Linked DNA regions of Homo sapiens: regions 2 and 3 are each linked to region 1. Evidence: fine-mapped expression QTL. A gene starts in region 1. Each other region holds a variant in brackets. All regions are shown on one strand. Distances are from middle to middle.

What was found.
Region 2: its variant is fine-mapped to the expression of STS in aorta (GTEx, PIP 0.99). The same link has a PIP of 0.9 or more in tibial artery.
Region 3: its variant is fine-mapped to the expression of STS in whole blood (TOPMed, PIP above 0.99).

Annotation. Positions count from the first base shown.
Region 1 is chrX:7,145,958-7,150,202 of GRCh38, forward strand. STS (steroid sulfatase) reads left to right here and starts at 1,755. Exons shown (of 11, transcript NM_001320752.2): 1 at 1,755-2,126. It overlaps PUDP (pseudouridine 5'-phosphatase), which reads right to left and starts at 2,196. Exons shown (of 4, transcript NM_012080.5): 1 at 2,096-2,196. The coding sequence starts at 2,156. It overlaps MIR4767 (microRNA 4767), which reads left to right and starts at 1,903; the gene lies at 1,903-1,980. RefSeq lists a silencer at 1,716-2,435 and an enhancer at 2,626-2,675.
Region 2 is chrX:7,350,178-7,354,422 of GRCh38, forward strand. STS (steroid sulfatase) reads left to right here. Exons shown (of 11, transcript NM_001320752.2): 11 at 1-4,245. The coding sequence ends at 84. Among named protein-coding and RNA genes, the nearest start is that of PUDP, 200 kb to the left of the region's middle. The variant G/A (reference allele first, on the strand shown) is at 2,476.
Region 3 is chrX:7,034,882-7,039,126 of GRCh38, forward strand. It overlaps a transcript of PUDP not described here. Among named protein-coding and RNA genes, the nearest start is that of STS, 110 kb to the right of the region's middle. The variant A/G (reference allele first, on the strand shown) is at 2,380.

The sequences.
Region 1 (4,245 bases):
AGGCATAATCTGGTAGATTAAATTAAAGTGGCACATCTTGGAAAGCTGTGTTTTATATTTACACATTTGGTGAAAGAATGGGATAAACAAAGGTATATTTCCAAGAAAGTTTTGCAAGGCCTTACCACCTCAAAGAAGAGGTAGGGCAGGAAAGGAGGAAATGGGCAGAAAATGAGGGGGGGGAATAAAAAGAAGCAGGGCTTATTTTTCCAAATAGCACTAATTCTTGGTTATCTGACTAGATCAGAGGATTGGGTAACAATGTGAGGTCAATGCTTGTAATGCCATTTAAGTCACATTCATCACTTCAGGGCATGGCTATGTGTGAATCTAGAATCAGAATTAGGCACCAAGCTCATTTAGAAGTTTAATAAATTTAATTTTAATGAGACATCTTGTTTGGTATTAAAATTCATGAGACTCCCAGAACAGGTTCTCTGGACCTTTATTAGAGGATAAGAAATTTATTTGACAATTTAACTTTTTGACCACCGGAGTAGGAAAATTCATGTCTACAAACTATACCTATGTATCCCACAAGCTTTCTGAAATTGAGTCATTTCAAATTTAGTAGCTGCATACACCGTTGGCTCCAATTAGTGACCTCTACGGGGATTTTTTTTTTCCTTTGGAATTCATCAGTTTACACCTCTGTGTTCATAAAATGAAGAGAATGGTTTCTGCATGCCTTTTTAAAAGGAAACACTGCTAGGGAATTACCCAGCAATATGATGAGCAGAAACAAGGTCACATTCACAATTTAAGATGAGCTCAACATCATTTATATTTAGAACTGGATCAATCCAGAATCGTTTCTCAGCTTGGCTTATTAGCTGTGTGACCTTGGGCAAGTAGCTTTACCTCTCTGAGCTGCAGGGTTTTTTTTTTTTTTTTTTTTTTAATTAGTGACATGCAAATACTTCCTCCTAACTTGCAGGGTTTTGAAATGAAGGAATGATATACGTAACCAAGCAGGTCAGCTGTCTACAAAGAGTATGCAGACATGTTTATAGATATATGAAGCCTCCTGGTGATTATGTGTCATAGTGTTAACTGTGTCAAGGCTTTCGGTAGAGCTCAGCATAGTTCTGTCTTGAGTTAAAAACAGGGTTTTATTCTTTGAATTCTACTTGAATTCCTCTTGGCTGGTGAAGTTCACATGTGCTAAGACTGACTACCTTAGTACACTGCCAAGGGTTTCTTAATGCCTCGGATTGATAGAGCAGCTGTTCTCAAACGTTCACGCGCTTAAAATGCAGATTCTGATTGGGCAGGGGTAGGGTGGGGCCCCAGCTTCTACATTTACAAGTAGCCCACAGGTGATGTCCCCGGTGCTGGTCACCCTAGGCAGCCAGGCCACTTGACGGACCTTCTGTGCCTCTACACTGTTGACGGCGCGGGATAATTCCTTATGGTTGCATAGGGCACTCCTGTGCACTGCGGGAAGTTTAACAGTATCACTGGTCTGGACTCCACTAGATGCCAGTGACCCCATCACTCCTCGCCAGCTGTGACAGCCAAAATGTCTCCTGACATCGCCATTGCCAGATGCCCTCAGGGCTGCAAAACCGCCAGGTAGAGAACCGCTACCATGCAGGATGCTACCATCAAAGTGCGCCCACAGCAGCAACCTTGGAGCAGGCAGGCAAGTATCCTCCAGGCTACTTTGCAGACGGGGAAGCTGAGGCTGGGCACCGCTCAAGGTCGCACGCATGCGTAACCGAAAAGAGAGCGCGGAGGTCCCGCCGCGCCTCGCTCTGAGGAGAGGACGCGGAGCCGCGCGCCCGCCCGGTGGACCCCAGGGACTGCTCCCACGTGCTCCGGCCCCACGCGCGGGCCGCCGACCGGAAGCGGGTGCTGGGGCCGCGTAGACGCCGCGGCCACGCGCGCCCGCCAGCCCGGACATGGGCCCGCGGGCGCTCCTGGCCGCCGCCCGACTTCGGGGCCAGCCGGGGGCAGAGCGCGCGGGAGCCCGAGCGTCCCTGCATGAACACCGCCCCGCCGCGGCCCCCAGGCCGTGACGTACCCCGCGCCGACCGTCCCCACGCCCACACAAGACCGCCCTTACTGGAGGCGGCGGCTGCACACTACCCACCCAGAAGAAGTCCGTCCATGTCAAAGATGAGGTGGGTGACGGGCTGCGGGGGCGCCGCCATGGTGGCGCCTTCTGGGTCTGGGTGGGGGCGAGGAGGAAGTGCGCGCGCACCCGCCCGCCCCGCGCACGCGCACTGAGGACCTTCTCGCGCGCCCGGGGTCGCTCTGCGCACGCGCCTTCCGCGGCCCCTCGCCCGGCTCCGAGCCCGCGCGTCCTGGGCTGCCTAGTGGCGCTCCGCGCACGCGCACCTTGGGCTTTCGCCGCAGCTGTAGCTGCAGACCCGGGATGCGGCGCGGGCCGGCGCTGTATGTTTACCCGCATCAATTCCTCCTCACTTCACACCCGGAATCGGGCCAAGCTACTCAGCCAGCGGCCGCGCAGAGCCGAGGCCCTCGTCTGGGGACAAATTCAGTGCTTGAGTTTGGATCAGGGGTGTGAATGAGGAAGGAGGGACAGTACAAGGGGCTGTAGAGTGGGGAAAGGGGATTGAAGATGCTCAGGGTGGTATCACTTCTAGCCATCAGGTTGCAGACAAATGGCCTTGGTCAGGAGGTCCCTGGGTGGGTTCGCCCGAGCCCCCAGTCCCTGGACCGTGGGTGGGTTTTTCTCAGTTTCGCTTGCCCGCCTCCTTGCGGTCCTGGACCGCGACTTGAACCGGCAGCCGCGCATGCGCAGTGTGCGGAGAGGCTGCACAACCTCCGTGCCTGCATCTCTGAGCATCCCAGGCTGGTGCATTGTCCCAGAGCAAAGCCAAGCTGCTCAAGGAGGATGCTGAAATAATACTAACAGTCAACATGTCTTGCTGGTTGTGCCTTCTTAGGTATCATCTGTCTTTTGGGCTGCTCTGAGTTTTCTTTCTTTTTTAACTTTTCAAATGCCACCTAAACAGCTTTCTTTTTTTTTTTTCCCGTTTGCCATCGTCAAAAAAATACTTTTTTGTCCCTGTTTCTATTTCGTGTTCGTTTATGTGGTATATTCACGTTTAAGGAAAAGGATTGGACCTTTTGAGAAGCGGAAATAGGAGAATTTCAAGACTTTAAAAACGTGAGGGTGTGCTGGGCGCAGTGGCCCACACCTGTAATCCCAGTACTTAGGGAGGCAGAAGTGGGAGTTGGGGGAATAGTTTGAGCCCAGAAGTTTAAGAACTGCCTGGGCAATATAGCGAGACCCTGTTCTCCACAAAAGGGGAAAAAGACAAAAAAAAAAAGGTGTAAACATGAGAGTGTATTTCTAGTTTAGTGCAGACATAGTGGACAGGGGCATGCCTGGATTCAGCAAGAATTATTATCTATGATAGACAAAGTGCACCTGTGTCTGTTTCCTCCTGGGTAAAATGGAGGTGATAAAGGAGGTGAGGCAGGCCAAGCCCTTAGTACCAGTGCATAATATATAGTCAATAAAATTATGTGTTCTTAGAGGTGGTACTATAAGAGAGCTTCCCCCATTTAATGCAATCGTGATTTCCCTTTGAGGACACGGGATTTCAGAGAAGGCAATTTATGAGCAAATTAGGTAGGGACTTGCGCCTCAAATACAGTCGTTCGTGGTTTCTGTATTAGTTTACTACAGCTGCCATAGTAATATACCACAGACTAAGTAACCTAAACAGCAGATGTGTATTGTGTCACAGATCTGGAGGCCAGAAGTCCTAGATCAAGATGTCAGCAGTCTTAATTCCTTCTGAGGGCTGTGAGGAAAGGACCTATTCCAGGTCTTTCTCCTCAGCTTGAACCTGCTTTCCTTTCCCTGTATCTTGTCCTATCGTCTTCCCTCTGTGTGTGTCTCTGTGTCCAAATTTTCTCCTTTTATAAGAACACGATTCTTATTGGACTAAGGACCACCCTAATAACTACATTTTAATTTGATTACCTCTGACAAAATCCTGTTTCCAAATAAGGTCACATTCTGAGGTAGCGGGGATGAGGACTCCAACATATATTTTTGGGAACACAATTCCATAATAGATGCATTGCACACACATAGCTGTGGTACCTACAGTAAGTATGACAGTATTTCCCACCTGGAGTCTGTAGAATTCTCCCTCCCAGTTTCCTTCCATTCTCTGGAAACAAATGGATGCACACATGTCAGAGTTACTGTTATTTTTTTGGTATTGTAACCACCTCACATTTCTGTTTAGTCATTAAATT
Region 2 (4,245 bases), 200 kb after region 1:
CCCTGGCTTCAGCTGTGCTGTCCTTCCACCGGCCTGTCTTGCCAGTGTGATAGAGAAAAACAGGATAAGAGACTGAGCCGCTAGCAGCGCCTGGGGACCAGACAGACGCATGTGGCAAAGCTCACCATCTTCACTACAAACACGCCTGAGAGTGGCACTGGGGAAACATAACTCCATCTACACCTTGGATTTGGACTGATTCTCCATTTTATCACCTGAAGGCTTGGGCCAGAGCTCAACAGCTACTCAACTGGAGGGGTGAGGGGGATAAGGTCTGTAGTATACAGACAGGAAGATGGTAGGTTTATGCCTTCTGTGGCCAGAGTCTTGGACTCATGGAAATAGAATGAATAGAGGGGCATTCACAAGGCACACCAGTGCAAGCAGATGACAAAAAGGTGCAGAAGGCAATCTTAAAACAGAAAGGTGCAGGAGGTACCTTAACTCACCCCTCAGCAAATACCTATGTCAACAGTATAAGTTACCATTTACTCTATAATCTGCAGTGATGCAATAACCAGCATAATAAAAAGGCAATCACATAAAAAAGAGTTTAGTCGTCTAAACATAAGTAACTTTAAGGTGAATGAAAGATCTTCTTTAGGAATAATAGATGATGGTAAGTTCCACTTTGGTTATTGGAAGGCAAGTCATTATTACTGGTATTAGTTAAAACACATATCAAATGCTTGCTCTTCATCATATATATAGTTATGCATACATACACACACACACATACAGTATATTCTTTCCTCAAAAGGGTTAAGATGTCTAAAATAGGGACCTAGAAGCTTAACACTATTTAAGTAAATACAGTAGAAGCTCACAAATAGATTTCTTTGCACAATGATTTTTTGCAAAATTTTACAGTAATAATAATCCCAAGGCAAATCTCTCCTGAACTGCTTTCCATTCCATAATTTGTAGTATAATTCTTGGATTCCACTGTTTTCTTTGGGGAATGGAAGTTCTGAATTAAAAGCCCACTGTGGAGATGCTGTGGTTCATGGAATCTCTTCCAGTGTAATTCAGAATCATTGGCCTAGAAAGTCTCTGATATTTGGAGGGGAACAAAAATCACTCACAAGCAATCCATGATCTATACACATAAGCATAATTTCCTTTAGTTCTAGTTAGTCATCAGAGAACAGTCATGTATGCAAGTTTTGTGACTGAGAAATTTCTGTGCTTCCAATCCACAATGAGATGCATGATTTTGTTTTCATCCCATTTCCCCCAAGCCCCTGTAAATCAGGGAAAATGCGCAACTGATCGCCTAGGAGAGGGCCTCGTAGTGGCACAGCTGGAGATAGTTTCAAAGTCTAAACCACCAGCCCATCCTGAGGAAAGCCTCCTATGGAATGTAAAGTGCAATCATTTCTTCAGATATAAGACTTTCCCCAACAATGTGATTGGATTCCTTTATGGCAAAATCGAGAGAAGCTGCCATCCACCTGCTTATGCATTTATCTCTTTTGTGGACTTGTCTGACCACCTTCTATTTGCCCAGAGTTTGCTCAATTCCAAGACAGTGCCCATGAATGGGACACCTGTAATGTAACCCACACAGCGGTTTGCAGAGAATGTTAGCCATGACTTGGGCTTTCTGAAAGTTGGCTATAATTTCTCTATCCCTACCCACAACCCTGGGAAGTTGGAGCAAGAGGGGCATACTATTGGGCTGGGAGGATTTGACAGCATTTCCCCAGTTGCCCTTTAAGTTCTTCTATTTCAAACGTTAATTTTGCTTCTCTTTCTAAAAAAAAAAAAAAAAAAGAAAGAGAAGAAAGAAGTGATTCCTACCCCCTACCTCCAGAGTTGTTGAAAGCTGAAAAGCATACAAGATTCTTCCTTTTAACTTGGATTTCTCGTTCCAGAAATTGTGGGATAATCTGTATTCTTGCTTTAGAAAACATTCTTAGAGAGGGTACTAGCTTACTGATGATGTGTTAGGATTGCTACTGATGCTGTCATGTGGAAACTATTTAAAGGCACTATTATAAATTTATCCTATAAGATGACAATGTTTACTCAAAGTCTAACATATTCAATGCAAGTAAGACTTTCTGAAAACACTTGATGATGTGGAAATGCTGCAGGATTAAATAACTTGAAGAGCCTTTATAGATTATATGAATGCCTATTTGTGTCTAGAACCAGTTATTTAACCTGTAAAATGTCAATAGCAAATGAAGGATGAAGTATATCTCTAGATGCAAATACATTGAGTTTAAAAGTGCCTCAAAATAATTGAGATCACATTTCAGGACATTTGGAAATCAGGTCGATTTGTGGTAACTGTAGTCATCTTAAATTTCAAACCATTTACCATCTGAAAGTTTTGATTTGAATGTAAAACAGGAAATTGGAATTCCTTTGTCCAGGAGAAACCTCACAAACCTTCTTTAAGGCATAGTTTTGTTGTTTGTTTGCTTGTTTGTTGCAGGCTGTAAGGCATGGCTGCTTGTTTACAAA[G/A]CATCTCATTCATATTACCTGTGGAGTTGCATATCCAAACCTTAGTGAGTTTTGAAGCTTTAAGCAAATTCTTTTAAAAAATTCTTGTATTTCTAGCATTACTAGATATTAAAAGTTAAGCAAATAGATTAATGACGTATACATAGGCATCATTTCACAAGGTCAGTAATGCTGCAGGAAAAGCAAAATTGCAATCTACGTATCTATGGTACTAAGGAAGTCCTGTTTTTCAAAAATGGAAGCCCACTTCTCAGATTTTTCTGAAGGGCATACAATGAAAAGTGAAGGGGAAACACACACACACAAAAAAACAAGTATTTGGCTTGTCACAGGAATCTGATTGCATTAAGTGAAAGGATTATTTAGAATATGTTAATGCAAAGCTAAAATAAAATTTTCCTTGGCAATTAAAAATGCTGTGCGCTAATACCCTGCTTTCTATCGTGACTCAATTCAACAATGTGGGGAATGTTTACTACATTTCCAACTTGATGTCAAGCAATGGGGAATACAAGTTCCAGTTCTGCAAAGATTCGTCAACTTTCTTAGCTCAAGAGAGAGGCTGAGAAATGCAGAGAAGAATAAGACATAAAATAGCTCCGACCTCCATGATCCGAGAGTGGGAAAAGGCCCGATTATTACCCATAAGGCACACTCTCTAAGGCCTTTTAAGGGGCCTACAAAAATGTTTTATTTTATAATCAGAAGAAAAGGAAATGAACATTGGGGATTGAAAATCATATTGGTATTTGCACCAACATAGTCATAAAATAGTATGTTAATATGTTTTTACTTTATATATTTATATATTAAAATATATTTAATATGTTTTGCCTTTGTGGCCCATGAAAGTCTTACTGGGCCCTGGGGAAGGTATCCTACCCTGGTGAAGCAGCTGCTTTGCTCTACAAATACCTGGGGCAGAAATTTGATTTGAAAAGTATTATTCTCTCTTCTCTTTGTTTCAACTGGATTCCTTTGGAAAACCAAACTAGTATCAGAACAAACCCCGAAACAGTAAGAAATTGGAGTGAGAAGGGCATGGTATTGGGACTAGGATCGGCTCTCATTCGATCGAGCTATTCTCTTAAAATGACAAAAAGTGTCCATAAAGAGGCTGCTGGAGAGTGCGTGGCCATAGGGAGCCGACATGCCCGGGAGGAAAGGTGTTGATTACATGGATACTTCTAAAAGCTAAAGCCTTGTTGCCTTCTCTTTAATGCCTAGAGAATGGGATGTGTGATGCAAATGCTCAAAACCTCTTAAATCATAGCTGTCTGACCTCTACGGACCTCACATCCATCTGAGGCTTCATGGACAAAGATTCTCCACTTGGCCAAACTTTAGCCAAGCTCCTCAACCTTCTCCCAGGCCCAATCTGGGCACTTCCTTGTAAAATCTAGTTTTGGCAAGAAGTCTATTAGGTCAGTTTAGCAAGAACACCTAACCCCCCCATATCTGTTCAACCTCAGTATCTGATCAGGCTCCTCAGCCTCCACCATCCCCCAGGTGATGTCTGGTCAACTGGCCTGCCTTCAGCTAGAATCCTGTTAGGTCGGTTTAGATGAATGCTCCCTGATATTTCCTCTTGGTAATCTTCCATCCACTGCCCCTGACCCTGTTCCCTGTCTATAAATCCCCAGTTTTCCATGGTGTATTCAGAGCTGAGTCCAGTCTCTCTCCCCTACTACAAGTCCCCATTGCTGTGGTCCCCGTACCTGTCATGATGGTCCTAAATAAAGTCTTACTGTGCTTTAATAGGTAGCATTG
Region 3 (4,245 bases), 110 kb before region 1:
CATCAGCAGGTCTAGTTCTCTATCTTCAAAGAGAGTTATTTTTAATTTTATTAGGGGATACATTCTTTTTTTATAAAGAAATTATTAGGTATCAAAACACCACAATCTCTTTATGGATTCAACTAGATTATGTGTATGGGCAAAGTATTTTCAAGTTAAGAATAACATTCCTGTTCCTTGAACACTATTTTGAAAGTTTGGATTAAGGGATATTAACTTCCTTAAGACAAAACAGACTCACAGTTGAAAACCACCCACCTTCTGTATAGAAGTTGCTTAATTAATATCAATGATTTTTATTGTATTGGAACAAAATAGACTATAACTTTTTATACGATATATATGGGTTTATTACTAAATATTCTTAAAATGAATATAATGCTATAATATTCTTATTTTGAGGTAATATATACATAGTCTGCAAAAATTAGGTTTCCTGGTGTCATTAACCACTTATGCAATTATTTTTCTGAAATGAATACACATGCTGTACATGCAGTTTTGCCTGATATAAGTTTTAAAACAATGTATATTGGAATCTTGGAACTAAAAATGAGAAAATCAGTGTCCCCTTGATGTCAATTTCAGTTTCAACTGCACTTGCTATTTTATTTTTAATTGGTTACATTATCTCTACATTGTCACAGTTGATGGTATTTGTTTTCTTCTCTGGGACCATAATTTCCACAGATTTAACCATAATGCATCCTTAAAGATTACAAGAAATCTTTTAGACACAGCTCCTCTCAGTTGCTGAGGATCCAGCCTTTACTCATTTGTTTTCTTCATGAATATATATTTCCTGAGTTGTATGTTTGTACATAGCTATTTGTAGCCTTTGAAGTTTATGGAAGTTTGTTTGGTTGCATTCTTGGGGCACATTTTCTTTCCCTGAGGACTGTTAAGGTTTGGATATTTGATCCTTCCAAAGCTCATGTTGAAATTTAGTCCCCAATATTGGAGGCTGGGCCTAATAGAAGCTGTTTGGGTCATGGGGACAGATCCCTCCCATTGAATAGATTAATGTCCTCTCCTGATGGTGAATGAATTCTTCCTCTATTAGTTCCTGCAAGACCTGGTTGTTAAAAGAGCGGGCCACCTCCCCGGTTTCTCTCTTGCTTCCTCGCTCATGTAATCTCTGCACATGCTGGCTTCCCCTCCTCTTCTGCCATGAGTGGGAGCAGGCTGTGGCCATCACCAGACAAAGATGCCCAATTTTGAACTTTCCAGCCACCAGAATCATAAGCCAAATCATCCCTTTTCCTTTATAAATTATCCAGCCTCAGGTATTCTTTATAGCAACACAAAAGGGACAAGGACTTTTTATATCTTGCCCCACTGTCTTCTAGCATTTCATGTGTCACATAAAGAAATCTTAGCCTCCTAGGTTTTTGTTTTTTTTGAATATCCACAGAATTCTTTCCATAACTTCAAATACCAGGAATTTATTGGGATATTTGTTAATTATTCAATATAAACACAGCCTTGTAATTCTTGGGCTATTTCTGTCTGCAGATTCAAATTTCATTGTATTTCAGGAATTTCACCTTGAATTGTATCTTTGAAAATTTGTTTTCATGTTCCATTCATTTTTTAACCCATGCAAGGCATTTAGTGTTATAGATATTTGATCTCTTCCCTACCACCCCCTCCCATCCCCCTCTTTTTCTCTATCTCTGTCTTCCATCTTTTACTTTTTGTTCTTTTCCATCTCACATGCTCATTTTTTCTTCTCAAAACCATCCTTCAAATTCTTTCAGTGGTGTCTCATCTCCTTTTTGCTGCTTCTATCATGACCTTTGATTTTGGTCTCTTTTTGTGTCTCTCTCTCTGAGATTCTGAGGCTCTGCCTATTCCGTTTTTATTCTCATTTGTTTCTAATTTGTTTCCAAGACTCTGTCTGCTCCCTTTTCATTCTCATTTATTAGTAATTTATTTCTGAGGCTTTACCCACTCACTTTTCATTCCCGTCTAACCTAATGTATTATCAGTTCTTCCTTAAAGCCTTATATTGCTTCTTTAAATTCTCATTTCAGAGAAACAATATTGTCTTTAATTGATTCCTTAGAAATAACTTTGTTCACGGTTTTTGGCTGCGTTGTGGTATACAATCTTTCCGGTTCTCATCTTCATAAATCATGTTCTGTTCTTCTTTTTTCATTTCAGCATCATTTTAAAGGCCCCCGGCTGGCTCCACCCTTTTTAAGTAGCACTGTTCCTCATCTTTTTGGACTAGAATTTTGGGCAAAGTTCTGGGGAAAGGGGAAGAGGAATGTGCTAAACAAATGGGAAGATTGGTTTCAGTCTGTTATCTCTGGGATTTTTCTCAGCTGGACTTGGCCTGTGGGTTATCTGGTCCAGCATAGCAGGACATCTTCC[A/G]GGCTCACAAGGAGGCTGTGCATTTTACAGAACATTTTAATGTGATTATTTTACCTTGACTTATCTTCACCAGGCAGCTTTGGGCAAAGATGGCCAGGTAGCTTTTATCTTATTGACTCTTCCTTCTATCCTATGCCATGATTGAAACATGATGTAGGCTTCCAAAACCAGGACATGAACCTTGATCTTAACTTTCTAAGCATGGGATAAACACATTTCCTTTCAATGTGTGCCACCCAACCACTTTGGATAACTATGAACTGGGTCCACTCTGCCTGAGTCACACATAGACAGACACCTTCTCTTGGAGTTCCCAAATACCTCCATCCACTTTTCATACACTTGGCTATCTTCCTGCATCTACTGTGATCCAGGGTTATAGGGGATCTGTAGCTTCATCAAAGATAACATTTGTTTGTTTCTTATTCTCTTGTTTGCTTTGGATTGGTTTCATAAAGGAAATGAGACAAAAATATACTTATACTACCATTTGAAAAGAAAAGATAAATTCCTTCTTTCAAATTCATTCCTTTTTTTTTCTTTCCAATGAATCTCATGGGGTGAGGGGAGGACTGAAGAGAATGTCTAATCTACTCAAATCCAAAAAGTCACAGGTATAAGGCACAGAAAATTTTACCAGTATAATGATGGCAGTTTTAATGCTATATAAGGACAGACTATGCAAAAATGCTGTTAATGAGGATGAGGAGCTACAGAACAAACCTGATGAGGAACTGTAATTCTATGAGAATGATGTATATAGCCATCATTTTTTTTCTTTAATCCAAAACAATTAGATTGCTTATATAGACAGCCACATTCAATTCTAAGCTATTTGATTGAAATGCACCAGAGGATGCAGATATATATATATCCTTTTACCTTAATTTCCATTTTATTCTTTCCCTCCCATTTTATCTGTGCTATAGAGTACATTTTTCCCACTTGAGCTCAACATGCTGTTGTGCAGAAAGCCTTCTCTTGGGAGTTCCCAAAATGTTGGCCCAGATGAGTGGAGCAGACATTTGGCCCAGGTGAGCATAGCACATATTTACATGAAATATTAGGGAGCATCCATCTGGGCTATGTGACGTAGGCTGGCAATACACGAAAGAGGATTCTGATTTGTTGTATAAATCACCTTCAGAGCCCCCAACAGTGAACACATAGGGGGTTCTTTTCATTTTCATGATGCTTAATATAATCCTTAAAAATAATTAAAATTAGGTGAAGTGTGTAGATTTCTGAGAGATTACAGAAAGACACTAGTTTTGATACCTCTTGCTTGTAGCATTTGACTGATGTAAACAAACTAAAAGGTTTAAAAAGAACAGGGATTCTTCCCAGTAGTATAGTGCAATGGGTAGGGAAAAAAAGCTCAAAATTGATAAATAGACCAATATTATTCTCAAAACTCATACCATTGTGATTGGGAAGAAATTAATACATATTACTTAGTCACTTCATGTTACTATATACTTCTATTAAAACAGCAAAAAGGAAATTATAGGAAAAAAGTCATACATTTAAAGGATGGAAGAAAATCCTAGGTTTACTCAGAGCTCAAGATCCCATTGGGATGAATATCGTTCTTTCCTCGGATTGTTCCTTCATTTCATTCATTCACTTATGTATGCATTTATTTATTTAGAGATGGGGTCTATTTCTGTATTTATTTATTTATTGATTGATGGAGTATTGCTCTGTTGCCCAGGCTGGAGTATAGTGGCACAATCATAGCTCACTGCAGCCTTGAACTCCTGGGCTCAAGTGATGCTCCTGCATCAGCCTCCTGAGTAGCTGGGACTACAGGTGTTTGCCACCATGCCCCGCTAATTTTTAAGTTTTTTTGTATTGATTGGGTCT